Linked DNA regions of Homo sapiens: all the other regions are linked to region 1. Evidence: fine-mapped expression QTL. A gene starts in region 1. Each other region holds a variant in brackets. All regions are shown on one strand. Distances are between the middles of the regions.

Evidence for each region. PIP is the estimated chance that this variant, and not a neighbour inherited with it, causes the effect. A credible set is the group of variants that fine-mapping cannot tell apart.
Region 2: its variant is the best candidate, but not a certain one, in a credible set for the expression of SAMD4A in whole blood (INTERVAL, PIP 0.82).
Region 3: its variant is the best candidate, but not a certain one, in a credible set for the expression of SAMD4A in whole blood (TOPMed, PIP 0.86).

What each region holds. Positions count from the first base shown.
Region 1 is chr14:54,562,230-54,572,477 of GRCh38, forward strand. It overlaps SAMD4A (sterile alpha motif domain containing 4A), which reads left to right and starts at 4,899. Exons shown (of 13, transcript NM_015589.6): 1 at 4,899-5,109; 2 at 5,267-5,883. The coding sequence starts at 5,688. RefSeq lists silencers at 2,981-3,050, 3,681-3,810, 4,371-4,420, 4,541-4,730, 5,571-5,630 and 2 more.
Region 2 is chr14:54,763,092-54,773,339 of GRCh38, forward strand. SAMD4A (sterile alpha motif domain containing 4A) reads left to right here. Exons shown (of 13, transcript NM_015589.6): 8 at 1,364-1,449; 9 at 7,013-7,131. Among named protein-coding and RNA genes, the nearest start is that of SAMD4A-AS1, 80 kb to the left of the region's middle. RefSeq lists an enhancer at 9,901-10,248. The variant C/T (reference allele first, on the strand shown) is at 4,753.
Region 3 is chr14:54,779,080-54,789,327 of GRCh38, forward strand. SAMD4A (sterile alpha motif domain containing 4A) reads left to right here. Exons shown (of 13, transcript NM_015589.6): 12 at 5,458-5,541; 13 at 9,837-10,248. The coding sequence ends at 9,865. Among named protein-coding and RNA genes, the nearest start is that of MIR4308, 94 kb to the right of the region's middle. The variant A/C (reference allele first, on the strand shown) is at 4,089.

The DNA of each region.
Region 1 (10,248 bases):
TGTCCTAAATGTTTAAAATTTTGCCTATCTGTGTTGAAACTATTTATCCAATGAACACCAGCTCAAAAGGCAACAGAGCCACAGTGTCTTCCTTAATTTTCTAGCAGAATTGCTACCTCTTCTTATCTCTCTCAACACTGTGTTGCCTCCCCTCAGACCCACTTCACATTGTACGTTTTTGTGAAGTGTGGGTGTGTGCACGCACGTGCCAAGAACATAATTTATGCTACACACTGGAGGTTGAAGAGAGCATGGTTCTTCTTCTACCTTTGTCTCTTCTAATTGCCTAGCACAGTGATTTATACTCAACAAATACTTTCTGTGAATGAATCAGTGAATGAAATGTAGAAGAGACGTGCAGAAGGGCAGACAGTGGCCGAATCCTGGAGTCTTTGTATGCCAGCCCAAATAGTCTGGAATGTATTCAGTGTCTATTCAGAAACCACAGAAAATGTCTGAGCTAGAGAGTGGAGAGATCAGAAGTGAGGAAGGGAGACCCACTACTGAGTCTAGGATAAGACCTAGGTAGGAAGTGATACAGGCTCAAACAATTCTTGGGAGTTATAGACCTAAATTTTATAGTAGAGTTTCTTTAGTTTCTTTTAAAATTAAGTTTTAGACAGTAGGCCTGAACTCACGTAGTGTTTTGGTTTTAGTTTTCTTACTCACAGTAGAAAAGTTAGAAAATATGGAGAAACAAGACAACAATACTCAGAAATCCTATCATGCAGAGAAGATCACCATTAGTTACCATTTTGGTGTAAATCTTTTCACACATTTTCCTATGGCATATATATGCATTTAAAATGTGTAATGAATATATGAAATTTTATTTATATATTTTCTTGCTATATAATATAATCATATATATGTTTGCTATATGGGCTTTTGTGTTAGATAAAAAATACCAAATGTCTTAATATTTTATCTTGAGGACTTGGCCCAGAACAAGTATTCAATATATATTTATCAAATGATTAAATGAATGGCAATTATCCATTGTCATTTACCTTTATGTAGAGATTTTAATACTTTTGCTCATTTATAAAGCAAATAATTAAAGCTTACAGCTCTGTTTTTATATCTAATGCATTTCTTTTGTTTTAGATTATTCTAGAAGAAATATAAATTTAAAATAAACATGAAATCTCTGGGATTTCTTATTTATGCAAATAATACCCAGGCATCCTCTTAAACAGTGATTTATAAATATGTCAATGATTTATCTAGAATTAGTAATCTTTGGAACATCTGAACATTTTAATTATTTGATCAAAAGTATTATTCACTCAGAAAACAATTTCTTCCCTTCCCAGATTCTAAGGAGGAGAAAAGCAAAATAATGTTGGGAATGTTAATTCATGATAATCTGATCTGTGTTTTATTCATATAAAGTATCTCTTGGTTAGTACCCCATCGTGTATTCAGTGCCTGTACTTGGTACTCAGAATACTCAGGGTACTTATTGCCTAACCCAGTGCCTGGCACAAGGTGACACAATAAGTATTTTTCAAATGAATAAATAGGAATACAGTGAACATAGACATAGTAATATCTCTTCTAATGAAAGGATATTTTCATTCATTTTTCAAGTGATGTGACTATATAGTAAGTGTTAGGCACTTCTTATTTATCAATAATACTGGGTCCAGGTTGACATAGGAAAAATCCACACTTAATACAATACCTTATATTTAATGAATGTATTTTTTTTTTCCTTTAGAGTGATGACTTCACTCTGGGGAAGAGTGAGGCCACATCCCTGGGTTTTATTTATACTCCCTTTCCTTTGCCCAGAGGAAAGGAATTGTTAACACACAAATACAAGAGTACTGACAGCTCATGTCATGCTCAACTTTATATGTCTTAGAGTGTCCTGAACAGTAAGAATTCAAAAATGAGATAAATCAATGTCTTTTCCTAGGTCAAAGGCTGGTGTAAGAACTACACTTTTCCAGTAGATGGCAGTATTTTCATTCACCAGCTTAAGTTTTGTTTTTTTTTTTTGTTGTTTTGTTTTTAGTTTTACTATACCTTTAGTAAGCTGCAGGTGAAAATACATGTTAATGAAATTTCTGGTTTTTTCACTTTCTTTTAAAAAAAATTCACTCTTGGGAGCTTCCAAAAGCCCTAGAACGACATCTGCTTTGCCTACAATTTATAGCAAGGTATATACCGAAGTAGACCATACTCTCTAATCCTCCCTATTTCCTGATATAAGTTATTACTAAGAATTAGCTAATTCATAGTAATCTCTTGGAGAAAATCTATCAAGCCTTTCTGCCTCTACAGTAACAAAACAAAACAAAAATAAAACACTGACTTCAGGTTTCCTGTTTTCTAAATAGGGCAAAATATTCATTAAATTAAGCGGATACCTCACCTGTCTGGTTAATAATTAACTTTTAAAAAATCCACATTTTTGCAGCTCGACCTCGACAAGACCTTTCAAAAACCCTAACAGATGGTTAGGTGCTATCACGTGTCTGAAACGAACTATACGCTGCAGAAACTAAATTTGAGGAGGAAGGGAAGAAAGCATTTAAATTCCAGGGACATATGCCGGAGTTGGAAAACAAAAGTGTTAATTAGTGGAATAATATCTCAGATACTTTCTCTTCAAAACAGTGGATTAGCAGGAGTAGGAAAGGCTGGGTCTGAAACACGCGTTTCACTGCCTTCTCAGAATTACTCCCGTATAAACAAAGCCTCAAGTTGCTGGAGGGAGCAGTGTTTCCTCTGAAATCACGGAGATAGCCCAGATTTAGTCATCCAGTCCTTCTTGCGAATATTCAACCCATATCAGGAGGTACAGAGGTTTTTAGGGTTTAGGGTATTTTTAACCAAACCTTTACTTTCAAGACTAGCAGAGGCACTTTCGCAGCCCACCCTGCGCCACTCAGCCTCTGCGCTGCGCCCTCCTCGCCTCTCGCGCGGCAAGGACCTGAAGCCCCGGTGTGGCCGCGGCCCTGCGCACTCTCCAGATCCAGGTGAAGGTTGCGAGGCCTGGCGACGCCTAAGCGCTGACAGGTGGCCTCGCCCCGCCTCTTTGTCGCCCAGGGCGGCGCTCGCCTCCGCTCCAGGCCAGAAGCCGCAGCCCGCGCGCCAGGCACAGCTCCCCCGACCGGTCTCAGGAGTTCGGCCACCTCCCCGGGGAAGAGTGGGACTCAGCCAGGCGCCGGGCCGGCCTCTAGGAGCCTGCGCCAGAGCAAAGGGCATCCGGCACCCGACCCGGGCCAGGCCCTTGGACTAGGGCGGCACGGAACCTAGCGCCTGGGCAGGTCCAACCCTGCGCACTGCCCCTCAGCCTCGTGAACCCTTCGCCTCCACGACCCCCGGAACCCATCCCAGCAAGTGCGGCAGTGACCTCGGGTCTCACCGCCCGGGGGCCAAACACCTCGGCCACCCCGGGGCCCCAGAAGGGCCGAGGGTCAGCCGAGCGGACGAACCACATTCCCAAGGACAAGCAGCGGGTGGCAGCACCGCCCCCGCCCGAGCGCCCTCGGGTCCCTTTCTGCCGGGGCTCCAGTGGCTTGAGTGTCCCGACCCCTCCAGAACACGCAGGCGGCCGCAGGAAGAAATTCACCCGGACCCGTCCTCTTCCCCGAACTTCTTCGTTCCTCTCGGAGGTTCCTTCTACCCGACCCCTCTGCGCCACCAGCTCCTCCCACTCCGCTCCCCTCCCCTTTTTCTGGTCCCCACTTAGGAATCCGTCCCCCCGCCCTGCGCCGGGTCCGGGGTTCCTCCCCCCGGCTCCCCCCGCGTGCCGTCGCCGCCGCCCGGGTTCCTCTCCCCCCGCTCGGGCGCTCCCTGCCAAGCCCATGATGTAATGGTGTATGTTAATCAGTAGCATGTGGGGAGCTCCGGCTCGGGCGGCTCAGTCCTCCGCGAGCCGACACTGGAGGCAGCAGCAGCGGCGGCTGCAGCGGCCCCGACTCGAAGCACCGCACTCTCCCCGCGCCGCCCGCCCCGACGGCATGGCCCGCGGCCGGCGCTCCGGGCGCCCCCAACCCCGCTGAGAGCCGCCGCGGCCCCGGACCCGCGCAAGGGCCCCCGAGCCGCCGGGATGAGCCGCGCCGAGGTGAGCGCTCCCTCCCTACGGCCCTCGGCGGGGGACCCGCGGGTCACTGGGGGTCCCCTCCCCGGGGGCTTCCCCCTCCGCCCGAGAAGTTCTGGGAGCCGGAAGCAGCGTGTTGTTGGAAGCTAGCGGCTCCTTGAAGGCTGAGTCGCTGGGTTCTCCTCCCCGCCGGCGGCGGCCACGAGAACCGGGATGGGACTGGGGGAACCCCCGCAGCCGAACTTTCTTTGCTGTCGTTGGGGGGCGTGTGCCTGCGGCGCCGATCCGCATTCCCCGCGGGGCCGCCCCGCTGGCCGAAGGGAGCAGCGCTGCGGACCCCGGCCGTCCCCTCGCGGGGCGTGTGCCCAGCGCTGTGCCGCCCTCGGCCTGCGACGCGCGGGCGAGGCTCCGGGCCGGACAGACCAGCCCGTAGGCGGCGGCGGCAGGATGCCTGCCACACACGCGCGCACACACACACGCACACGCGCGCGCACAGTGACCGCTCCGGCCGGAGCAGGCCCAGGGAGACCTCCCGGGTGGGCTGGTGCGGCGCGGCGCGGGGGAGCCGGGGCTCTGGGTTGCGCCGCCGCCCGCTGGGCGCGGAGCTTTGGGTGGAGAGAGTTTATTTTTGTCTCGAGCTGCTGCCGCGGCTGCTCACGGCCTAAATCCAGAGGGGCGCCTGGCGGTGGAGATGCTGGCTGTTGCTGTAGATGGAGCTGCAGCCGCTCGGCTGCTTCTCTGGGAGGAGGAGGAGGAGTAAGAGGAGGAGGAAGGAACTCGGGCTGCCGCTGCCTCCGCCTCTGCTTTGCATTAGCTCCCACCCCCACCCCCGCGCCCCTTCGCAGCCGCATTGCAAGTTTTCTGCGCGGGGAAGATCTGTTGCTGGTGCTGGCGTTCTTAAGCACGGCGCCCGAGGCCACCCCAGGCGGGCCGTGAGGGGAGCACCAGCCGTTGGCAGCGGCAGCAACAGGAAGCCGCGGGGTCTCCTCCCGCACCTGGGAAGCAGGCTTCTCGCTGTTACCCGGTGGGGAATAGCCCATCTCCCACATCGGGTGCGGAGGGGGCGGAGGGGGCGGCTGGATTTCGGCGAACCCAACCTTCCGCGGGACGCCCCCTCCCCTGGCCCCAGCACCCTCTGATGCCCTCGTCCCCCCAGGGCGCGCTCCTCCGCTAGCCGAGGTCTCACTGCAGCTCTTTCTCTCCTTCCAGTGGTGATCGCCGCTCGGGAATGCGGGCGTGAAGGGTCCGAGTTGCCGCCCAGCGGGGAGGAGACCCCAGGACGCCGGAAATCACCATCCCAAAGCTGCAAGAAGGGGGGAGAAAGCATTCTTCATTCAGTTGTGTGCCTTGTGGGGGATTTTTAAAAAGTCGTTTTTTTTTTTAAAGAAACATTTCCGTGCTACTGTCTGTCATCGTCTCTGGGGAAATCAGCCAGAACCACCGGAACGTAACTGAAACCAGACAAGAGAGGCAGGAGCCCAGGCAGTACCTGCAGCGTCCGGGCACCAGAGCCACCTTGGAACAGGAACGCGTCTCCGGCCGCGGGGCTGCGGCTCCGCCAAACTTTGGGGCGGGCGGGGCGGGCTGGGGCGCCCAGGGGGCTCTGTAGACCGAGGGCGGCCCCCTAACCATGATGTTTCGCGACCAGGTCGGGGTGCTGGCGGGCTGGTTTAAGGGCTGGAACGAGTGCGAGCAGACTGTTGCGCTGCTGTCGCTGCTCAAGCGCGTGAGCCAGACCCAGGCCCGCTTCCTCCAGCTCTGCCTGGAGCACTCGCTGGCCGACTGCGCCGAGCTGCACGTCCTCGAACGCGAGGCCAACAGCCCCGGTAAGTGTGCGGCGGCCGCCGCCGCCGTCCCGCCTGCCCAACCCCCGCTCCTCCCTCCGCTTCTCTGCCTCGGGCCAGGCCGAGGCCAGTCCCTGCCAGCCGCGCCGGGACCTGGACGGCGTGGCCCCGAGGCCCTCGGAATCCACCCCCTCCGGGTGTCCCCCCACTACCGCCCCCCACCTACTTACCTCCGCCGGCCGCTTTGGGATTTTGCCCACTGTGAACTCCGTCAGCCCTTTCCGTGTGGTAGCTACGGTAGCATGAATGATTGATTTTTCTCTCATGCAGTTTCCTGGGAAATAAGTAAGTCAGGTCACGTAGAGTCTGGATTTTCTGGGTGTGTGTGTTTTTTCCTTCCTCCTCCTTCTTTTGGGCAACGTGGCTCGCTGGATTTCAGCAACACATGATAGATGCCCGGGACTGCCCTTCAGAAGCCAAGCTTGGATAAGGCTGTGTGAGGAGTACATGAAAATCCAATTTTATTATTCATTTTTCCCCACAGATATTCTGGTTTTAGAGCTTCGTCTTCAGAATAATATGCAGGTGACGCTAGAGACTAGTAAAATGACATTTGCAGCATATATATATATATATATATATATATATATATATATATATATATATATATAATGCGGTTAAGCTTACTGCTCGTGACATTATCCATATTGATACGGATCTTGTAGAAAAAAAGGGTCTTGGAGAAAGGACAGGCATGAAGTGGGTTACTTAATGCTTTTCGTTAGGAAACTTTACTGAATAGAACAGAATCGTTTCATATTACCCTGCTAGTATTTACAGACACCTCAACTAGTATGGAAAGTGAATATAGTCGAAAGGTCCAGCAGTTTCCTATTTGCTAGCGTGGGTGGTGACAGACTGAAATTATATCCTGGAGGGTAGGAGGAGGCTGGGGGATGGGGGGAAAGTCTGATGGTTGTGATTTTGGATAGGGGGAAATTCTTTAGTTCATGCTGCTGCAGGAGGGTGAACAGAGTCCCCAGTGTTTATGCAGAGAAAAGAATGCAGGGTCCTCTTCCAGCTGTTCCATGTTGGAGCTGCGAGCCTGCAAAGCTCAGCAGAGGTCTGGGCTGCCATTTGATGACAAGGTCCAGTCCAGGGCAGTGGGGCCTGGGAGACACTAAAGTGAGTGTGCCTTCAGAGCAGCAAGAAGCGAGCCGGCCTACTCATTCCTCCTCCCTAGTATGGTGTGCACGATGGTGAAAACACTAGAATGGGATGCTTCCATATATAGAATCATAGGGTGGAAGTGACCGCTGGAAATCTTCACAGTTCTTTTCCTGACCAGACAGGACTGCACCCGAAAGATCCTGCATGGCCAAGTATGGAGGGCCACATTGAGGGAGATTCCATTGAGCCCGAGCCTCCCAGCTCACACCAGGACTCACTGGGGTGGCGATGACAGGGCCCCCTTTGGTTGAGCTCCACGTTTATAAATAGCTGGAGGGCCAGCCTCCTTCACTGGGGTGTGGAAGCATAATTGGGTAACTGATGATCCACCCTCTTTGCTTCCTTCCTTAATTTCAGCGGGAAGCCTGGTTTACCTGCTCGGTTTTACTTTCTCAGGTTTGACAAACAAGGTTATATAAACTTTTGCATTTTATAGATTGCAGAGGATTTACGCAGAGTCATTTAGGTTGAATGCTTGATTTCAGTGCTGGTAGGGACTGTTCAAACTCATCTTTAGGTTATTCAAATGTTGGAGCAGCACTTTTTCCCTTTGAGTAATGGAGATGACTTTTCCCAATAGAGCAGCCACCAGGTTAGTAAGTAAAACAGTTAAATGTTAAAATAAGGTGGCCTAATTTTAAAAATCTCATAATTTAAAAAATTGAACTGTGAATTTTTTGAAGTCACTTGGCATTTTTTTTCCCTTAAGACATGTTTGGCCATACTTATTTGTATAAGATACCCACCTGTTCATGCTGCTAAATGATGTAGATATACAAAATATAGAACCATTGTGTAAGATAGGAACTGGTCTCCAGTTTCTGGATTAATCCTTCGCCTAGACGTTTTGCCTGCATGGAAATCTTTGCAGTTGTTTTGTTGTGTGGCCAGGACAGAAATTTCTTAGGAGGTCATGTGATGATTTGGTTTACTTTCGGAGTGTGGGGATCATAAAGAGCATCAGGAGTTGTCATAGCATACCTGAGTCTGTAGTGTGGCTCTCTGCATATCCGGAAACTAGCCAAGAACCAGGAAGGGGGCAAAAAGTCCACTTCGCAACCAGAGTAGATAGCATGAAAGTCCAAGAGAATATTTCAGGCCCTCTCTCAGAATGTACTTGCTCTTATTCTAGACACAATCCTAACATTTAAAAAATTTGACAAATAATCCGTAGTGTATTGGGGGTAACACATTTAGAATGGGGTGAGGGACTGCTGTAATCAGTAGTAAAAAGTGACCCCTGACAGCCTGACAACTTGGAAAGAGACAGAAAAACTGTAACTTTAGACAAGAATTGGGGCAGAAACTTTGAAGGCTTGGGAATATTAGGGTGGGAACCCTCAATTGACCTTGTAGGCACCACTCTATAATAACATAAACAAATAATTGCTATTTACTGTTGTTAACGGTGAACTATGGAAATAATACATTTTTAGATACACTCTTTAAGAAGAGAAGGAAATGTTCAATATACTTTGGAAATGTTTACACCCAGAATAATTAACCTCTGAGCTGTTTTGATGTGTAAGGCTCTTACCAATTCAGAAAACTAGGCTGTGCAGAATGACTCATTCATTGGATTGCTGAGATTTCCTGTACCGAAGTCATCTTGTATCACTTTATTTTGTAATCATCAATTTAAAAAACCCTCACATTTTGTCTAGTGTTTAGAGATTTTAAAACTTGGTAAATGGGAACCAAATTCATATATGGGACTCGATCTCAGTATAATAAAAAAAAATTACTAGTAATAGTATGAATATATCTCTCGTTTTATGCAGGACTGATTTTAAATAGTGAGATATCCTGCGCATTAAACATGATTTATTTGAGATTTGTGGGATGTAATTTGGTGCTTTCATTCTCTTAAATTTATTGAGAATCTAGTGATTCACTGGTTCATCCTTTGCCTCAGGCTCATGGTCATTGGAGATTCCAAGAAATGATTGAATCAGTCCCTATGGATTTATTTGTATGTGTTTTTCTTTTAACAGATATGGTCATGATCAGTTCTCTAGTACAGTCTTGTTCCCAGGATCCTTATAACCTTAGATAAGTCTCTTCAGCTACTGCTCCAGTTGAACATTGAGACTTCTGGCCAGTCTCAGTTCCAGGACTAGCAGGTCATTTGATACCTACAAGTAGCAAAAATGCAACCCACTGACTTTACCTGAAGTTTCCAAAAGAAAAATAGACTTTGTGGCATTGTTTATTTATGGCTTTTGTCACTTGGACTTGAAATATATTTTTCATAGAGATTTATAAGTTAATCCACAAAAACGTAACCCACAAAATATACACTATTTGTGTATGTTTGTGGTAAGTAAATGACAATAAATTCCTATACTTATAGTTAAATACAAGAGAAAAGGGTATCCAAAATGGTGATGTTTGAGACAAAAAAATAATTGTGGAGCTTGAAGACTCTCTCTCAGAATGTAATTACTCTTATTCTAGACACAATTCTAACTTTTTTAAAAAAATTGATAATCCATAGTGTATTGGAGGTAACATATTTAGAATGGGATGAGGGGCTGTCACCCTCACCCCATATTTGTGTAAACTTGCTGTCATTAGAGGGTGGGTATGTTGGTTCCATGATTTTTATGGTTTTGGTTTCTGTAGTACAAGTATGCCATCCTCCACCCTGCGTTACTTTTTAAGGTTACAAATGGCATAAAAAGAAAGCAGCAGAAGAGGTTTTCCTGATGATATGGATAAGATCTTGTTTGTAGTTTTTTCATTCATTTATTCATTCCACAAACATTTTCTGACTGCCTGCTATTTTCCTGACCCAGTGTTATGCAATGGAAATGTAAAGGTAACTTAACTCTAGTCCAGTGCCTAGTACAGATAGATACTCTTAGTGTGGGGTAAATGACTAATATAATATCATAGGTGTTGAAGCATAGATATGGGGATAAAAAGTATGAGGAGAGGCCTACTGGGAGCATTGTGAACCTAGCCACTTATTGCCTGGGGAATCAGGGAAGACTTCCCTGAGGAGGAGATACATTTGAGCTGAGTCCTGAGGGGCGAATAGGAGTTGGTTCAATATTTTAATATAAAAAGATTGTAAAGAGGGGTCAAGAAGGTATCTCCCATGCAGAAGATAGTGTTATCCCCTTTAATGTATGGGCCTACATGCATGATCCTCTGAGAGGCATGAGTGGAAGA
Region 2 (10,248 bases), 200 kb after region 1:
TGATCTGCCCGCCTCAGCCTCCCAAAGTGCTGAGATTACAGGCATGAGCCACCGCGCCCAGCCGAATATTCACTTTTATACACACGCAGGCCTTATTTACATTCTTTTCTACAGGCTGGTGGGTTTAAAAAAAAATACTATAGCCGGACACGGTGGCTCATGCCTGTAATCCCGGCACTTTGGGAGGCCAAAGTGAATCACTTGAGCCCAGGAGTTCAAGACCAGCCTCGGCAACATAGTGAGACCCTGTCTCTCAAAAACAAAATAATAAAATTTAAAAAGTATATATACTTACAATATTTCTATCAGTACAAATAGCGCCATCTCAAAGTTTTTTTTAAAGATGGCATACTATTCCACTGTATGCATAAACCGTAATGTATTTAACAAAGTCCCAATTAATAGGCAGTGAGGTAGTTTACAAGGTTTTGTTATGACAAACAATGTTATACTGAAAGTGTATGTGCAAAGGCAAGAAATAAATGGGATTGTGTGACCAATCAGCCATGCAGGGTTAGGGACAGGGAGGAATCAAGTATGATGCCAGGTTTCAAGCTTGGTCTCCTTGAGTGTCAGACATTTTTACTCTCTGGCTGACTCCTTTTGTCCACCCATCTCCACTGTGGCCCTGTACACATGACTAAGAAAGTCGGGGAATCGTCACCTCTACAATGAGACCAGAATGGGCCACAGTAACATGGCCGTGAGAAACCTAGTGCGTGTGTATACTCTACCCGCAGACTAACTCTGTTCCATCCTATTTAGCACTGACTTGAGTGTGTAGGTGAGCCTGCGCCTGTGTGTGCATAAATGTGCATATCACTCTGAGAAAGCAACCCTCTGAGGAGTGAGTAGCAGGCCTCCTGCACATGTGCACACCCACACACCTCCCCGTCTCCAGGAGGTGCCAGCTCGTTCCTCCAAACACAAACGCCGCTGTCTCTGCACCTGGCGAGGGGTGTGCGCTCATTCATAAAATCACGGAGGCTGCTCTCTGACAGTGTCAGGGTCTTGGATACTTCTGAAGCCCCTCACACAGAGCCACTTTCAAAGACCAAGCTCAGGACGCCACTATTCACTGCTGTGTTCTTCCTCTTATTGCAGTGTCTTATTGCAGAAGGCTTCATATAGAATGGCATGACTGGAATTAACCCAAGGGGCTTCTCGAGACAAGGGCTCCCACGGTGACCCAGCCTTTGACTTCTGTGGAATGAGGAGCCTCTTGGCCTTTTTTGTGAGCCTTACATAAAGCCACAGACACACATACCTCTCAGAGTGTTGGACCTGAAGGGAAATGAGAGTCAGGTCCCAGAGATTAGAAAGGGGTGCATTTTTCTAATTCATCTTTTCTTTTTAATTACAGTGTGCACACAGCTCTTGGTCTCCAGACCTGATGAGGAAAATATAAGTTCCTATTTACAGCTCATAGACAAGTGTCTAATTCATGAGGTGAGTAGTGACAGGTTTTACAAAACCATTTTTTTTTTATTGCTTAGAAATGGTTCTCAGAGTTTCTGTGATGTGATCATTTTAGCCTCCAACAACTTGTTTTTGAGTGGTGGACAGTTATTAATAATAGGTTGGGCAGAACTAGGCTATGACAGCCTCAAACCCAAACACAGCTTGAACATTACTTTGGTGTCCAAAGATTTGCCCAGACTGAGTGTTCTGATGTGCAGTGAACGCCTGCAACGACTTCTGGCTGGGGAAGCAGCCCCGGGTGGCCAAGCCTCAGAGGGTAACACATGAGCCCTGCTGCTTAGCCCTGGGCATTGTCAGGTCTTTTAAAAATCTTGTGTTGAACTCTTGCCTTTTAGCTCAGGGAACTGGAGAGAGGAAGGGAGAAAGAGAGCCCATAAAGAAATAATGAATGTGTATATGTGTGTGTGTGTTTGGGCTTGCGATTGTTGTAGGAATCGTATTTGCCACATATCCTTTTGGAGGAGGCCTGAGGCAGGCTGCAGGTGTGCCTACTGGACCCTCAGGCACAGTCTTCATATACAGAGTGAGATAGACCCTTTGGCATGGCGGGGCTAGGCAGCCGTCAGCACTGGTGGCTGTCCCTAAGGGACATGTAGGGAGAGGGAGTTGCACCTCAGACCTAAAACTCCAGTGGCTCCTTGGGCACCCCTCCCTCCCCACAAAGAGCTACAGCAGCAAGGCCTAGACTAGAGAAAACTTGGGACCAGATAAACCTAGGATGGTGAAGTCTTTTTGTAGGATTTCGATGTGAGAATAAGATAGTAAGGGGGCCGGGGTGGTGGGTCACACCTGTAATCCCCACACTTTGGGAGGCCGAGGTGGGAGGATCACTCGAGGCCAGGAGCTTGAGACCTGCCTGGGAAACATATCAAGACCCTGTCACTACGAAAAAAAAAAAAAAAAGCCAGGTGTGGTGGCGCACACCTGTAATCCCAGCTACTCGGGAGGCCAAGGTGGGAGGATGGATGGCTTGAGCCCAGGTGGCCAAGGCTACAGTGAGCTATGATCCTATCACTGCACTCCAGCAAGAGCAACACAGTGAGACTTGTCTCGGGGAAAAAAAAAAATAGTAAAGGCCCCAGGCCTCCTCACCTTTGCTGCATGGGCAGCCAGTACTCCAGGAGTCCAGTAGGGTCCGGTGAAGGGAGACGCCCAGCACAGCGGCCAGGCCCCTTCTCCACTTCCCTCTCATGTTCTCACCCTTCCAGCTGTCACATGGGCCCTGTGCTATCGAAGTTCTCACGGCCCTCACCCACTACCCACACTTCACATACAAGGGTACAGTCCCCCTCTGGGATTCCATCCCAGCTCCCCCTTCCCCACTTCCCCAAACCCTCATTTTTGCAGTTTCTCCTCTTGGCCGTATGGATTCTTATGTGCCCAAGCGGCTCTGGCCAAAGTTGTCAGTGTGACTACAGTGACCAGCCGCCTAGGTTGGGGGCTCAGACACGCCATCCTCTGAAATGTTTAACTATACCAAAGTACTAGACTTTTCACTGAAAAAAAAATGGTTTTTTCCCTCTTTAATGGCTTCCCTAGAGCACCCAGGCATTGTCAAAAGCCCGTACTGAAGGCTTATTTGTGACTTTGTTTCAGGGACAAGGCCTTCTCCCCACAAGCCTTGACTAATCCTTTTCTATTTCGAATCCTGACACTGGACTCGTTTTGGCCAGGAAAAAGCGACAAAGGAAGAGAAAGCAAGAACACAGTGAAGAATGTTACAACTCGTCCATTCCCTAGATACTTACTGAGCACCTAGGCAGGTTACAGTAGTGAGAGAATTAGGCAGGTTACAGTAGTGAGAGAAGGGGTGAGACAGAAAGAAACAGGCCATCACAGCCATGATGAGAAAGCCTCTGATAAGGTCATCCCTGAGTGCCCTGGAGCACAGAGGAGCAGCAGCAGCGGGCACCAAACCTGGAGCCAGAACAGGGCATTTCCGTGGAGGAACCCTCTCCACCCTGAGACCTGAAAGGCAAGCGAGAGTCCTGGTGGTACAGACTCGGTTCGTAAGGAGGCAGAAGAGAGTGATGTCTGCAGGGCTCCGTGTTTTGTTGAGAAGTAGGACATTTGTGGGTGGCTTGGGGCAGACGGAATGGGGAGGATTTCAGCCTCTGATAAAAGCACACCGGAACTCTGCTTCCTCTCCCACGCCTGCTCTCAGCATTGATATTGGAGGACAAGGTACTGTCCACCTTGCCTCAAGACAGCTGAGCCCATGAGACAGAAATCGTGAGTCCTCCAGCTACCTGTGCCAAACAATCCACAGGCTTCCTAATTGTCCCTCGGCAGCCCCGAAACTCTGGCCTGACGCTTCCTGCTTGCCTGCCATCCTGCATGTCCTCCCTTGGTACCCTGGCTCTGGTTTTGTTTTTTCCCCTTGACCTCCGTGCAGCCCCAGGTGATCTCCTCTGGTTGCCCAGAGGGGCCTCTCGTGGCTGGGGGCCCCGGTCAGGAAGGAGCTGGTGAGGTGTCTGCTTGCTAAGTTCATGTCAGGATGGAGGGGCCTGCGTGCTGCTTTGGAAGGGAAAATGTTGTTCAGGGCTTTTTATGATTTTACTTTGAGAGAGAGGAAAAGCTGTCTGAATAATTTTCCACAGCCTCCGGTTATTCTGTGTGGGTAGAACACGCCCTGCCTGTGAGGCCCCGTGAAGGCGCACAGCCTCCATCCTGGAAGAAGTTTCACCCGGGCACAGAGAGACAGGACGCCCCTTCATAGCCCGGACACGCTGTTCCTTAGCTGGCTGGGAGCAGGGAAGGTATTGAGTGGGCCAGGACACCTCCCTTCCTTCCCGGGATGGAGGGACCGAGTCCCCAGAGTCATGAATGGAAGGAGAGGAAAGTTCTGAATTTTACTTCTGAGACCAGTCACTTTGACTCCTGAATTATAATCCCAGGCCTCTGGGCACTTCCCTGTGTCTTGAGGTGGCTCTGAGAAGATGAGCTCTTGCCGCTTTATGAACCTTTTCATCCAGCCACATATGCTGGGACACCATAGCCATCTTCCTCCAGACAGATGCATTGGTCTAGGCCTGAGAGGGCCAGAACTCTGGAGTGGTGACTAGGGGTGCCTGGGCAGTTGCTGGGCATGAAGCCTTCCCTTCCCCTCCAGGCCCCTTGGGAAGCTGCTCCCCAGCCCAACCTGGGGCTGCCAGCGGAGGGGGCTGCAGTGAGATTTTGGGCATCATAGCCAATGCAGATCCCCCATAACTGAGCACTCCCCTGTAGGCCAGGAACCAGTGTTCAGAAACTCCTGAAGCCAGCCACAAC[C/T]GAGCACCACATCCCCAGCTGAGAACCGGCCCCCACTCTCACTCAGCACTGCTAATGGGCTGGCTCCCATCTGCAGCCCTGAAGGAAAGGAGCCCGCTGCCCATTGAGGTGCTCAGGGAATGCGCCGACCTCCCCAGGAAGGCGCCAACATTCCCACCTTCTTGGATGCTGTTTGCCACCAGGGAAGATGTCATGTCTGTAATGATGTCTTAGGAAGCACATCCATGAAATGAGCCCTTTACTCCGTTGTCACTTGGAAACTCAGGCCAGTTGTCCTTCAGGCTGGCACCAGACCAGCTCAGTATTATAGTTTAGAGACCTTGAAGTCATTTGCTGTGTGCTATTGGAGCTCAAGGTCATGTTGAATACTTAACGCGATGAACAGCCGTATACCACCACCAAACGGCCGGTCTGTGCAGTCCAAAACAAAACCCCAGTGTGACACCTGTGAGTGGCATCTATTTGAACCGTTATTAAGAGCGAGGCACGTTCCAGGTATTCTAAGTGTTGTTCATGTGTTATTTCATTCTCACAACATCCTTTTGAGGGAGATATTATTATCCTCAGTTTCTAGGAGGCACTGAGTCTTGGGTAGAGGGGCATGCGTAAAGGCGTGCAGGGATTCGAGCCCTGCCCATCTGCATCCAGAGCCTTCCTCTGGCCCACAACTCTCCTCCCCAGGTCACCCTGACCAGCATGCCCACATGTGTCCTCACACAACATGTGGCTGAATAAGCCAGTCAAAAGCAGAAATGATCCCCTCTCGCTGTTAGTCCAGCAGAAACGCTTGCCTTTTGCCCAGTTTCAGAGGTACTCGTGTGTAGCTGGACATGCAGGGAGCATCACCAACCAATGAGAGGGACTGTGGAGGAGAGCCACGCCCTCGCCTCCTAGCCCACCTTGATGCATATTCTTAATGGCATCTGGCTAAGGTCACCCGGGAAGAAGGGGTTTGTAAGTCCTCAATGACGTTTCTGCCACATGATTAACATCCTTCTGCTTTTGTCCACAGAGTTCTCCTGGTATTTAGGTCCTTAAAGATTCAGCATCACTGGGAGACAACTAAGCTGTCATTTTTTTTCTCCATTTAAGGAATCTGTTTCCTTTATGGGAACTAGTCATTTAGTCTGTTACTGAGTAATATTTTATGACTACTTAAAGGAATTCATGCCCTATTGACAAAACTGCTTCGGAAACTTCTCTCCCTCCTTGTTACTGTGAATCAATCAAATCACATGGATTTCCCACAGCACGTGTTCTAAGTTACAGTTCTAGTCACTTGGCAGGGGATTCATATGTGACGTGGGGTCCTCACCATCTAGAACACCTCATGTTCATGCTCTACCTGCAGCAGAATTACCAGGGCACTTGGTACAAACACAAACTCTCTAGACATCCCCTTCAGATCTACTAAATCAGGCTCTGGGCATGTGGAAGGGAGCCCAGGTATCTGAATTTTGACTGTCTCCTTGGGTGATTCTAATATATCATGAATCTGAGAGTTCCTGCCTTGGAGACTCCTAACCCACATAAAGTCCTTTCCTAGTCTGTGGCAAGTACAAAGGCTAAACGCAAAAGGAAATATAACATAGGTAAGAGTTTGTTACAAGGCAGCAGGCAAAACACACACACCAGTTTTGCTAGAAAAGAGTTCTGCAGGCATCAGACCTACATACTTCCCTAAACTTTAGAGAAGGTTTAAGTCAGGACTGGTACACTGGAATTTTTGTAAGGCAAGAGACCCATTAACTGGAGATGTCTCAGCAAAGCCCTGAAACACAGAGAATATAGTCCATTCTCTGACACCCTGTAGACCACTCTAGGGTGCCCACACACCATCAAGCAGATTGATTTTTGGAGTGGTTGAGAATTTTCATTGATTATGAAAATGCAGGGGGCCTGCAAAAGCCAGAGTATTCAACAATCAATTTTGCAATTCATTCTTGGTTAATAAATAGAGTCTGGAGTGGAGTCAGGAGGGAGGGGGAATGTGGATATGGATCTGCCAGAAATGTCACCAAAAATGAGGGTTGTCAACAGTTTGATGCGTGTACCTTATCACGCACCTCCAATGTCAGATAACTTAAATTTTCAAAATAGGGCAGCTCCCAAATTAAACTGACTACGTTTGGACCAGGTTAGAAACAGGTGAAGAAAAGGCAACTGCAGAGACTCCAATGTTTTCCCCTTATTAATTGCATGTTTCTCCCTCTAATGCCAGGCTGCGTCACCCATTTAAAAGTCCTGTTTGTTTTTGCAGGCATTTACAGAGACACAGAAAAAAAGATTGTTGTCATGGAAACAGCAGGTGCAGAAGCTCTTTCGGTCTTTCCCTCGGAAAACCCTTCTAGACATATCAGGATATCGACAGCAAAGAAAGTATGTTGGGATTTCATTCTTTGTAATGCGTAGTGGTTCCCCTGGCGCCTTGTTGCCTACCTCGGTTCCTGGGGCAGGAATATGGCAGGGCACCATTCCTTGTTCACGAAGATGCCCTGTGGCGAGTTCCAAATTGCATTGCTTAAACAGGTGGGGCTGGGAAAAGGCTGTGAGAGTGAGCATTCCCAGGCGAAGAGCTGAATGTGAGCTTTTGTAACACAGTTTGCATTGTCAAAATGATGGTAATAGTCCGGATGGGTATCAGAGGGGAGAGTGGGTATGATTTAACAAATGCAGGCAAAACACAGGATGGCTTACCCACAAAAGGGGGATCTGAAAGGATAAAAATGGGTTGTTCTATCAATCAGCACCTTAAGTGGTAGTGTGATTTTTTTCCCCCTTCGTGCTGTAGACAAGCTAATTATAGTTGGTGGCAGGGTGAAGAGCCCAGTGCTAGTCTATTTTGGTCTGCAGTCTCATAGTGGAGCAGTACAATTCTTGATTTTTCCATAGTACTTCAGCTTCTTGCACGCAGTTAAAAATAAGCCTGGTTGTACTTTAGAACCCATTACCTTAATATAGTTTTAAATTGAGGAATCCAATTACATATTAAAGATGAACTGCAGTGACAATTTGTGGGAGAAATTAAGGGTAGAGGAAGGGTTAAGCCTTAAACAATGATAGGGAATTGTTGGGACATAAGGGAATGAGAATGTAAACATCCTGAAAAATTAACATTCTATTTTACACTTTTAAAACATGAGCAGATAATTTCTTCACTTGCACCTGAAAGGGTCTGAATTCATTTCATTTCTCGGTGCATGTATAGAAGCTCTCTGCCCGTGGTGTTAAAATTTTGGGCATTTATTTGCGTAAGCGTGCCTTAAAACATCACTATTTTGGATTTAAGGGAGATAAGGCCAGTTGAAGTTTGTGAAAAGACTTCATGAAAGATTAATTTTAACACTGAAGTGTGATCACATTCCAGCATATATAACGGTTATTTATTAAACAAACATTTATTTAGCACTTACATATGCCAAGTGGTATCCAAGCACTTTAAGAATATTAATACATTTAATCCTCATGACAACCATGTGAGGTAGAGCTGCTGTTGTTAACCCCATTTACAGACAAGTTCATAGGCAGCAGCATTGGGGATTTGAACCAGGCAGGCTGGCACCAGCTCCAGCTCCATGCTTTTAACCCTATGGAAGCCAGGCAACTCTCATGGTCTCAGGATGATGAGCAGAAAAGATTGTTCAGGCAAAGCGACACTCTTCAGGACCAGTTCCCTGGCCCCAAGCCCTCTGGGGTTGCCAACCCTTGTGGGTTGGACTAGACTACCTCTTTGCCCTGAGGATTCCCGATGGCCCAGATGAAAGGCAAGGTCTGCTTCCTTGGCCTCCTGCCCTGGGGCCTACCCCCATCCCAAGTGGCTTTTCTCTGAGAGCAGCAATACTTTTCCCAGGTGAATAGAAAAGGTTCCAGACTCCTCTTGCAACACCAGGCCCTTGGGAGACAAGTTCCAAGAGGAAGAAGGCATTCGGAGGTTGGAGATGAAGATGGGGCGGCTCTTTGCTGCTCCTCCCAAAGTCCCACCCTGGCCTCTGTCAGCCCTGTGTTGTCATTGGTCCACATCCGAGAGCCTTCTGGAGGTGGAGCAGGGGACATGAACCTTGACCTCTCCAGGGTGTTTGTTAGTAACACTTGGATTGGGCTAACCCAAGGTTTGCCAGGTTGGAGTCCTAATGGACCCCTTTTAATTGATTAGATAAGAATGAATCGCTTGTGGATGTTCAACTGGATGTTACTATAAGGCTGGAAAATGTTTTATACTCATAAGTATTTCCTCTGGGATCTTTTTGTGCTATTAATTTGCTTTGAAGACCTGTTTCTCCAATAATACAAAGGTAACTGCAACCCAACCCCTGCTTGAATTATCACAAATCCCAAATTAATTGGTTCTTATTAATGTTACTTTATCAAAGACTTTTCATGCATTTCAACATTTCAGTGTAATGAAATCAGATTTAGAAAGGTAAGGCAAGAGAATGAGAAAGGAAAACTTGCTTTTGTCACTTTGTTCTCTCCCCAGAAAGCATTGATGATTTCATTAAGCCTAGCGATCTTAAGTAACCCAAGCATTCACTCTGGTTGCCAGCAGTGGCAACCCTCTGCAAAGCTGGCTTTGTAATAACCCTCGAAGGGTCCCATCAGGAGAGAGAAAGATGGCCTAGCCAAATTCTCCCCTCATCACGTCCTACTCCCCTCCCCTATACAGCTGAGTCCTAAGAGTCCCTGGATCCCTCCTTTCTCCAGTGACTATAAGTATCCCATAACAGAGTCCTCTTCCCACATTATATTGCTTAAGAATTCAGTCTTGCCTTCCTGGAAACACAAATCATTTTAGCATCACTCATTGACTCTGTATTTTGCATATGAAATAACTTTTTAAAAATCCAACCAAAAAGGAAAGTGAGAAAACGCTATCCACGCTAAATAAGGAAAAATCATAGCAGAATACTGAATCATCTACCAGGTGGCCAAAATTCCGACTTCAGAACTCAAAGGACTAGTTTTCGTCATTAAAAACAAACAAACAAAAAAAAAAAACACTCGGCCCTTGTCTCTACCTCACGTAGTCAGATTGTCCTTCCTCCAAAGGAGGTCTCATCATGTGAAACTTATTCTACCCCTCCTGGCCCTGAGTTCTTCCTTCAAACCAAAAAATCTGAAGCCTTCGTAAAAATGAAAACGAAATTTTTAAAAGGGAAAATGGGAGAAAAAAGGAAGAAAGGCCAAGACAAAGATACCAAGAACCTGTGAGTGTCCTCCTCACCACATTCAGATGAGCTTCTGACCAGAATCTAGAACTCCTTCCTTGGCCACCAAAGCCTGGAAGTAGAAAGGCACAAGCCCAGAATTCTCCTTCCTGCCACTTCTCCCCTTAGGAAATTTAAGAATTCTGGGGAGAAGAGAAACATTTTCTGAGATCTGCACTGCTGGCTCAGATGCCCCTCCCCCTACATACAGGCACAGCTCTCTTTCTCAGGAAATGACTGTTCTGCAGGCCCCTATCACCCTCAACTGGTTAAACTACGTCAGCCCTGCTTC
Region 3 (10,248 bases), 220 kb after region 1:
GGTCCTCATCCTGGATTCAGAGCCGCTTCTGCTCTTCCTGGATTCAGAGCCTCTTCTGCAGATGGGCCTTTCCACACAAAGCAGTGCAATCTGGTTCGCTATGGAGACTTCCCGGGGCTTGTGGCCAGGCGTTAAAACTAGACTACAAATATCATGTCAGGACAGCAAAAATCAGGAAGTCAGAAAGTGGCTTTCATCTGTACATGAACAGGAGTAATAGTGAACACAAAATGAAATTGAGATGTGTAACTAACCCAAAAGTAGATACTCGGAAAACTGTTATCATACAATGCAGTGTTTTCCTCCTGGCTGTTAGATGTCTTCAGAGAATCCATTGTAAACTGGGCAAATCTTGAAGACTACAATGCATTTGAAGGATGCTTTCATTCTGTAAACCTAAAATAACTCTACTGATGGGAGACTTTAAACGTCTCATACAGAGAAGACAGAGGGCTAGAACCCACCAAGTTGCGGATCAATTCATCAGTCACCTTGCTCGGGTTTACAGGACTCATCCCTCGTTCCTGGTTCTACACAATTCACGGGCACTTGGAGGCCCCTCAGGAGTGGTGTTTCATGTTATTCCCACATGGACAAGCTTTTTTTTTTTTTTTTTTTCGAGACGGAGTCTCACTCTGTCACCCAGGCTGGAGTACAGTGGCGCAATCTCAGCTCACTGCAACCTCCACCTTCACATGGACAAGTTTTAGCTGTTTCCTGGGACCAGCCAGGAGACCCTTCAGGTGGCTATTGCCAGTGATGAGTAAGAAACACTACGAGGTGTAATACGCTCACCAGAAAACAAGTGTGGCGCCTGTGCGAATGGTCACGTTCCTCATGGAGGCAGGGCGTTTTCTCAACTAGATAACTGGTTTGGAAATTGCTTGGAGAGGGATCCTTTATTTTGGAAGCAACTAATTTCTACTGACCCAGGCTTAGTTGTCCTTGGGATCCAGTCAGAGAGGATCTTGGAGTGGCCCTGGCTCAACAGTAGGAGATCATGGAGGTTCTTTACCCCCTGGAGGGCCTAACAGAAAAGGGCAGGGAACCCCATAGCAGGCTTCAAAGGAAAACCTTCAGAAGGGTAGGCTGCACAGCCTTCTGAAAATCTCATTCTTCCCTTGCCCAAAGCCACATGCAAACTACCCTTGGTTGTGAACCAGCTGGATGTGAGCTGGGTCCAGTGGCACCTCACATGGCAGCATTTCATGGTGTGACTTACCTGATCACCACAGCAAACCTCCTCTAAGTACCAGCTCACAATTGGGATTCTTCTGCCATAAGCACGCTGCATATATCTGGGAGCACAGGGCTCCAGGCTGTTATTTTTCATTTCCTTCCGGAGAACTGCCTTTAGAAAGAATAGAGAGTTATTGGTGCACTGGGTCCAGTGGGGTGTGGAAGGGGCTGCCATGCAGAGGCAGAAACCAGAACAGGGACCCAAGTACAGTACTGGATAAATATTTCCTCCATGTCTTCTAATAAATCAAGGCAGACATCCCTGTTCAGGACTGGCAGACAATGGGTAGGGAGATTGATAAATAAATCAATTCTGTCATAGCCAAGAACCCAGCTGGGCCCACAGCCTCCTGCCTCTGAGCATCAACTTGGGGCAAGATGGTACAATATCATCTTATACCATGTTGTACCCATCACTTTTTGTGAAAGCGTTGGTCCCAGAGGACCTCCACAGGCACTGACCTTCTGCAGGCTTAGGAATGTTAGGAGGCCACCAGAGAAAAGGTGCGTTCCCATGGTCAACTCAGGGATGCTATTCATTACTCCTGCCACCCTCCATGGCCATCTCTGCCATCCTCAGCTTGCCTGCTGCCCCACCCCTCTGTTTCCCTGCCTGTGCCGTTTCTTTCCCTTTTGTTACCATCCTCCCCCTTTCTTCTTAGTTCTCTTGTCTTCCTTTCTTCTTTACTCATCTCATCACAGCAGACCAGGTCCCACTGCTCTGTCCCTTTTTGTCTTCCCTGCTTTCTCTCCTCCTAGCAACCCTGCTGCTCAGTGAACCAGACTCCACACCTTTCTAGTTATCCAACAGAGTTGCCTCCGCTGTCATTGGCAAAACGGGATTCTATAGATTTTTCCTGGAATGCCCCAGCCTGTTTCTTATTCTAAAGTCCTAAAGAAATTGGCTCCTTACCCTCAGTGCCTTGGAGAAAAAGCACTGCAGAATTGCACCGTGGGTGCCACACATGTGAGACCCAGCAGGGATGGACGGTTACTGCCAAGGACAAGCCCTTTGGGCTCCTCAGGTGGATGCTGCAGCAGCACCTCATTAGGGATGGGTAGCATTCTCTTCCGGAATCTTCTTGACCCTGGGCCTGAGCACAGGACTACTCCATACGTGTGGGACTTCTGAAAAGATACAATTAATGTCTCAAGTCAGCCTAGACCTTGGGGATTCCAAAACTAGCGATCCTTACTGAATACTGGAATACTGGTCCTCAGAGATGCCATCTGAGCTGAAGAAACATGCCTCCTTTGGGAAAGAGCAGAGGAGGCTCAGTTAAAGAGGGGTCTTTCCTTTTGCCTTCCTGAAGACTCACATCTCCATCTGCCTGGTCTGTGGCCACGAGGGGCAGGGGCCTGGGATAAATGAGATGGGCCCTCAGGGTTAACAGGAGCCACAGCAAGGGTTGGCCTGGTGGTTTATGTTGGTCTGTGGGGCAAGAGCTGCCCGAATGCCCCTCTGGGGCACCTAGCCCCATACAGCTGAGGGTTCCTAGCCTGAGATGGAAGCTGTTTTCCACCCAACTGGTCTTTCTGTCTTATACGTGCGGCGAGATGGCATGGATCTGTTTTTATCAAATACACAATTAAAAAGTCACACTATTAGGAAACTCTGCAGTGTGAACATATGGGCTTCTCCCAAGACTTAGAATTTTTCAGAGCCACTCGGAGTGTTGGGGGTCACGGCTCCCCAGTGCATGGAAGCAAAGAGCTGGGGAGAAGAAGCGAACACCCCCACTTCCCACCTAAAAGAGCAGCCACGAAGGTTTGGGGATTCTGGAGCGGAGAGCCCTGCGTTTCTCAGCCCCCTTTTTGGAACACGCAATCCCAGGCTTGGAAAATGGCATTTTGCTGCGTGTTGGCAAGAAATCCTGCAGCTGAAACACTTCTCTCCAAATGTCGAGCATCTTTATTTATCCAAATCTCTCCACAGTGTTTGTTTAAAGGGGAGCGCTGGAGAGTAAACTAAATCTTACAATGAGCATATGGATGGCTATAATTGCTGAGGTTTGTTTTTTTTTTTCATATTTGCTAACTCGCTATATATAAAATTGTGTTTCTATTTTATAGATTTCACACCCTGAAGACTGCTAATTTTTGCATGCATATGATTTTCACATGAATGGATGAAAATACTAAAATCTCTTCCCCCTGGAATTGTCTAATTGCCCCGACCCTACTCTAACAGCAACTAGTGGGTGGGGGCGGTGGAGACTCCTGCCATTCTCTGTGGCACCCCACTTCCCTGGAAGCTCAGTCGGCCTCCGTCTGCTCACGTATTGGCACGGTTGTCTTCCAAACCCATCGATGCCGGAACATGGGTCAGGAAGAACACAGTCAGCTCTCTGGTGCTTTCCATAGCGTTCCTTTTTGCCAGGCTTCTGAGATTTTTAAATAACGGAAGCAACATCTGCCTCTGAATTAGCTGACAATGGGAAACACACATTGCAGAGATTATCTTAATGTATAGCAAATCAAGGAAAACAAAACTTTGACTTAACCATTGGTTTCAGCTTCCTATCCCACCAAGCCACCAACTTCGTTTCACTTCTCTTTCTTCTCTCTCTGGCCCCATGTGCTCCCTTGGTGGAGACATGAAGGAGCAGGCAAGTGGCCTGCAGGGGGACCCCGGGATGCTTTGCCCACTTGACAGGTAGAGGAGCTAAGGCCCTCAGCATGGAACAGGTTCCCAGGCTCACAGAGGAAGGTGGTGGCAACACGGAGACTTCTCGGTCACCTGGAACACACCCCGCTGTGGACACCCCCTCTGGGACTTTTTTTCTGCCTCTCCCCTTAGGATTTTGCAATTCTTTTCAAACCAGTGTCACAAAACTTTAAAAAAAAAA[A/C]AAAAAACAAAAAGGATTTCACAACTCTTAGCTGTCAGAGTTTCCTTCTACTTCTTCTACTTTCTCTTTTTCTTCGCTCAGTAGACATGTATGAGGCAGAAGGCCAGGGCTGGGCGCTGTGGGAGATTCAGAGAGATAGGGAAGCATCATCACTGTCTACAAGGCACTTCCAGGTAGTTGAGGACATTTAAAGTCGCCACTGGATGAGGCCTGCGGAGGTGCTGACAGTGAGGGCTCCAGCAGGTGAGAGGAGGTGGCTCCCAGACACTGCCTCCTGCTCACAAGAGGCGACATTGGAACCTGGGGAGATAGAGGGGTTCCAGGTGGTAGAGGGGAGATTGTGGTGAGAATGTGCACAGCACTGTCGGTCAGTGGGAGCCGAGCCCCTACTGCCTGCAGAGTGGGTGTCTCAGCCCTTGATTCTAGAGGCCCTCGAGGCTGAGTGTGTTGACAGTTACCTGCAGTTGCTGTGGCAGGTGGCTGAGCCCCGGCTCTGGAGTCAGAGAGGGTCTTGTCCCAGCTTTGTGTTAGTTGGCTAACTTTGATGAGTGACTTCACCTCTCTGAACCCCACTTGGGCTTGTTGGGCAGATTAAGGAGCCCGCACACCTAAAGCCCCCCACGTGGTCTCACACTAAGAGGTGCGTGCTGGGCCCTGGCTTTCCTCTCCCACTCTAGATGCATGCCAGGCCCTGCTCTAGGCACAGGGGGCAGAGCCATGTTCTGCTCCAATGAGGTGAGCACTCAGCGGGGTCAGGGGAGGGGGACAGTAGAAAGTGAATACAAATATCAAATATGACAGCTGTGGGCGAAGGCTATGAAGAAAAATAAAGCAGGGGAAAGGGATAGTGTGGGGGCATGGCTCATACAAGGAACAAAGTCCTTTCCAAGGAGATGATAGAGCCAGAAATGTGAAGGCAGGGAGAGCCATGGAAACCACCCCAGGGAACAGCGGTGCAAAGGCCGTGAGGTAGGAGGGGGCCTGGGGCAGAGCAGAGGAAGGAGAGAGCTGTATGAGGGTACAGAGATAACAAGGGCCTGGATCATGCGGGGCCTTATGGGCCAGGGCAGGAGGTTGGCTGTTACTTTGATGGGAGGCCGCTGGAGGGTTCTGAGCAGAGGAGGCACAGACTGTGACATGACCAGCTATTTTTAGTCTCCGTTTTGTTCCAGGTTCCCAAGTTCACAGTGGACTGTGTTTAACAGACCTTAGAGGTTGGTTGAGCCTGAGTGGAGCCCCTTCCATGCCAGCGCTGACAGTCCCCAAGTCCTCCCAGGGAGGTACACCAGACCTTTCTCCTGAAGGTGGAACCAGGTGGCACCCTGCTTATCTCCTCCTTGTCACCAACATAACCCTTTATCGCCTGCAGAATTCCAGCTTCCCGTGACCGAACCTGACATCAACAACAGGCTGGAGTCGTTGTGCCTCAGTATGACCGAACACGCCCTGGGAGGTGAGTGTGTTCTTCCTGCATGTCCCCATGTCCCTGTTACCGTGTGCCTGGGAGAACTGGCCATCTGCTGTCTATACCGTGGCAGGAGCTCAGGAGAATTGGGGGAGGACAAGGAGGGGTAGGCAGGGGACAGGGAGAAAGAGTGGCCTTAGGGTACTGTTGGACCATTTTCCAGCGGCACCATGCCAAGTGGCCAGTGCCCTGTTTCTCCTCCTTTTCTGGGAGGTGAGTCAGGGACCTGGCAATCAAAGCTGTCCCTCTGTCCCCAGAAGCTCCACCTCCCAGTGCACATGGGAATCACACCACAGCAGTTGTCCCAGCCAAGTGCCAGGCCTGGAGGAGTCAGGGACATGAGACATGGCTTTTAGTAGGAATATCCCGCACAACACTGGATGCTTCCCTTCTCTGCACTAGATCCCCCAGCCTGGTCCAAGCATAGCCCAGCTTGCCTTAGAAATATAATTTTTGAAAAACAGAAAACCCAGCTTGTTTGTGTATCTCCCAGTTGCAAACAACTTTCTTGACACCTGGAGCCCAAAGCAGGCTGAGGTGTCCTTTCCTGTGTGACAGGGACAGGTTGAGTTAGAGGCGCCTGCACGTCCACTGCCCAAGCCCAGAATGGGGGCTGTGCTGTGCAGGGCTGTGGCCCCACAAGCAGCTCACAGAAGCATCTGTGCTCCCCCGTGTGTTTGGCTGGAAGCCATGCTTGGTCACAGCAGCCCTGGGAGGCCTTCAGCTCCCTCCTGGTACTAAGCGGGCACCTTTCTCTGGGCCTGGATATTTATGATGCTTGGCAGGCAGAGGAGAGAAGAGATGTCTGCCATTTCCTGCCAGCTTCCTGGGAGGCTCTGTGCCACAGAGACACAGAGAGGCCTCCTGTGAGCCTTTCCAATAGCCCTATCCAGTCTACACTTGCTCTTAGCCAAAAGGCCGAGAAGCGATAGCCCTATCCAGTCTAGACACACTTACCCACCCAGAGAAGGGCTGTCTGCACACCTAGAGCCAAGACGTGCGCCACCTGGCAGTGGTGGGGAAAAGACTGCCATCCTCTGCTGCTTCAGAGAGCCTTGTCCTCCAGACCTAAGGTTGTTAGATTTTTAGTCTCTGCAAACACAATCTTATCCTGAAACCAAATATGAAATAGATCAGTGCTCTGCATGGAGCAGAGTGGTGGGCCCGGGACCACACCCACCTGACCTTAGCATCAGGGGGAGCTGAAAGCCTTCCAAGGGCATCACAGAGCTTCACCAAACAGATGGTGGGAAGACACAGCCCCTTCTGTGACTTCCCCCAGAGCTCTATAAAGAGCCTCATTTGCGAGCCACTGCTCTCTGCCTTGGCCATTCAGATCTCAGGAACATCACTGGGCCATCCCTGGTACCTCTGGCAGGAGGTGCTGCCAGCTCATCTTTACCTCATAGAGGAGACTGGGTCAGCAGCCCCCTAATGAGAAATGGGAGACAACTCAAATGTCCACCAAAGGATGAACATGGCTCAAAAAAATGTGGTGTATCCAAACAGTGAAAGAGCATTCAGCCTTTAAAAAGCAAAGAAGTACCAACCTATGCGATGCAGTGGATGAATCTTAACATTATGCTGAGTGAAACAAGCCAGGCATAAAGGACCACAGAGCGTATGATTCCATTTATGTGAAATGTCCAGGATAGACTAATCTACTGGGACAGAAAGTAGATGAGTGGTTGCCAGTGGCTGAAGGGAGGAGGATGCAAATATTCTGGAATTAGATAGTGGTGAGGGTTGCACAGCTTTGCAAATATACTAAAAACCACTGAATTGTATACTTTCAAAGGGTGCAATTTATGATATGCAAATATTTCAATTAAAAGTAGTAATGACAGTCTCCCTGGGGCCAGAGTTAGGATAGCAGCTGGTGAGTGAGTCCCCTGAGCTGGCACCTGCCAGAGCTCTGACATGGGGAGGGAAGCCCCTGTGCTCCCCTGCTCGACAGTGGCCAGCTGGGTGGGGGACTGACTCAGTCTTTCACTGCTTTTGACCAAAGAAAAAGGAGAACTGACCTTTTCCCCCAGGGCTTGATACATCTCAGACAATTGGCATTTTGGAGGCTCATATCAAACTGCTAAGTACCAACATTATCATCATTAGCAGCAAGAATACCAAATGCTCTTTATTAAAGGAAGGTTTTCATTGAAAAGACTTCGTTTTTTTCAGTCTGTTCTGTTTTTACAGAAAACCTCTCTGAACCGATGGGTTTTTTGCTAATGTTTTCATCTTGTTAATCTCCTAAGCTTTTTTAGTGCTGTGTTTTTTCCCAATGATCTCCTCTGGTGGGAAGCCTCGTAAGCAGTTTCCTGAGCAGAGAATGCAAATTAAGTTCAGGGTGGCCTAGTTGGGCACAGTGGCAGTGTGCCCTCCCAATATGACAGAGCTTCTCTGCTGGCCAACCCCTTCCAGGTGCCAGGAAAGATGGCCTTGCTGGAGACAGTATGCTAATGAGTCAAGTCCTTTTATGGGAAGAGGAACGGGCAGGGAGAGGAAAGCACAGTGAAAGAGGTTCCAATGCTTGCAACTCAGGAATGGAGAAAGAGAGGCTCACATCTGTTGGCCTCTAGGATTGGTGATCTGACACCACTGACACACTCAGGGACCATTGCTTCCTTTCTTTAAAATCTCCCCTAAAATCATACAGAACTTATATACAAGTGCACTGGGTCTGTTTGGACTATTACTTACAACAGCATGTGAACCTACAGTTATCTCAAAAGTTTCAACTGAGGAAGTGCTTCTCCTCCAAGGCCCCACTGGCAAGAGTTGCCAGCCTGGCTCCACCCACAAGGAAGCCAGGAACCAACCCCCTGTGGTGGCCTCAGCACGCCTGTCACTTGGGTCCTCCAGCTTTCCCTGGAACACACTGCCACTCCCTTCTCACACCCAAGTTCTGCCAAGCAAATAGAGATGCTGCATCTGGTGGACCAGTTCTGTAATATTGGGGCTTGGACTGGGACATCAGCAAAGCCAGGGAGGCACCCCACAGCCCTGTCTCACCCACATTTAGTGGTCACTGAACGCAGTTATTCCTACCGCCTGTGATGGCTAATCCATGCCTCTCTCTGCTCACTGGAAAAAATCCTTGTCAGTTCTGGCACAGACTGTTATAGGGGCCTCTTAACTGGTCCACCTGCCACCAGCCTTATCCTTCCTCAGGTTATCTGATGCAGCTGCCAGAGAAACCATTCTAAAATTAAATCTCATTACTCTACTGCTTATAATTCCCCAACTACCTACCTCTAAGCTCTTGTTCATGGTATGCAAGACCCTATGGTCTGCTCCTGGGGACCGTTCTAGAACCCACGTGTAAGCAGACAGCCAAAAAGGGGCCGGGCAGGCCTCACACCTCTGATGGTCATATCCCCTGCCTTCTCTGTAGCCTGGGTCATCCACTTCTCCAAAACGTAGATGTGGCAGATTCTGGGCGGCCTCAGCACTCTCCCACCTCCCCAAGACTGTTCAGTTCTAAGTGCCCACAACACCTACCTCAGACATCTCTGCCTTTGATCAGATTCTCGAGACAGAGAATCTGGATTTGTTTGGGTCAGATGTGTCCATCCCTCTGGTCTGCTCAGCTGTGGACAGGGTCACAGCCACCTTGTCCCCAGTGTCTCATCAGGGACGTGGGTTGAGAAGGAGAGGCTGCCAAAGAAAGGGATGTGAGCTAGACAGGTCCACCTGCGTGTCCGTTGCAGCCCCTGCCTGGCTCTTCCACCCCATCTCCTCTACTGCATTCCCCATCCTTCATCCTAAACCTCCAACGCACCCTCAGCTCCACCACCGGATGACCTATCATCCCACCTATGCATGCACCGCACACCATCCCCACCCTCCTCCTCCTGCCAGCACCAGCTACAAAAGTCACTTTGTATCTCTCTGAAACTGTCCTTGACTTCCCAGGCCAACCGGGCAGCCATCATTCCTTCCTCCACGATCCTGCTCTCTTGGTACCTACTCCATTACAGCAGTGATCACATATAGCATTATTGTCTGTCTACATGTCTGTGTCTACCCTCAAATATAAGTACTTGGGAGGTGAGGATTAGATATTTTCATCTTGGTTCTCAGGTTCAATATGGCTCCTGGCAAAAATAGCTGTTCCCCAGATATCATGTGGGTGGGTATGTAAATGCGTGAACACATGAACGTAGGTGCCCTTCTCTGCCCTCAGAGGCTGGGAGGCCCACCGTGCATGGCGTTGGCATAGGTGGGCACGAACTGGATTGTTTTGCTCACCTGTGCCCATCGTTTGCTGCTTTCTCTCCCAGACGGGGTTGACCGGACCTCCACCATCTAGAAGCTGAAGACGAGAGTGACCGCGCTGGCCGTGAAATCGACTGCTGCGGGTCCAGTGTCCGCCATCTTCAGGGTTGCACAGAATCCTCCAAGATACTTTGCAGCCTTTTTTCCCCCTGGTCCCTCTCCCGTTTTGATTTTGTGAGAGCGTAGGTCATCCTCGTAAACATATCAGTAGACCTGGGGTTGGTTATTTTGTCATTTGTTTCTGTCATGGGATGGTTTGGTGTGTGGGGTGGGGAGGGGTCTCTAGGGAATTATGAGACTGGGAGGGGGGTGGAGGGAATGCAGGTAGCTCTCTGGATGGAACGGGGACAGGGGAAAGAGTACTGCCATGAAAGAGATAGGAGACACATAAGAGGACAGCAGAAGCCCTGGCCCTGG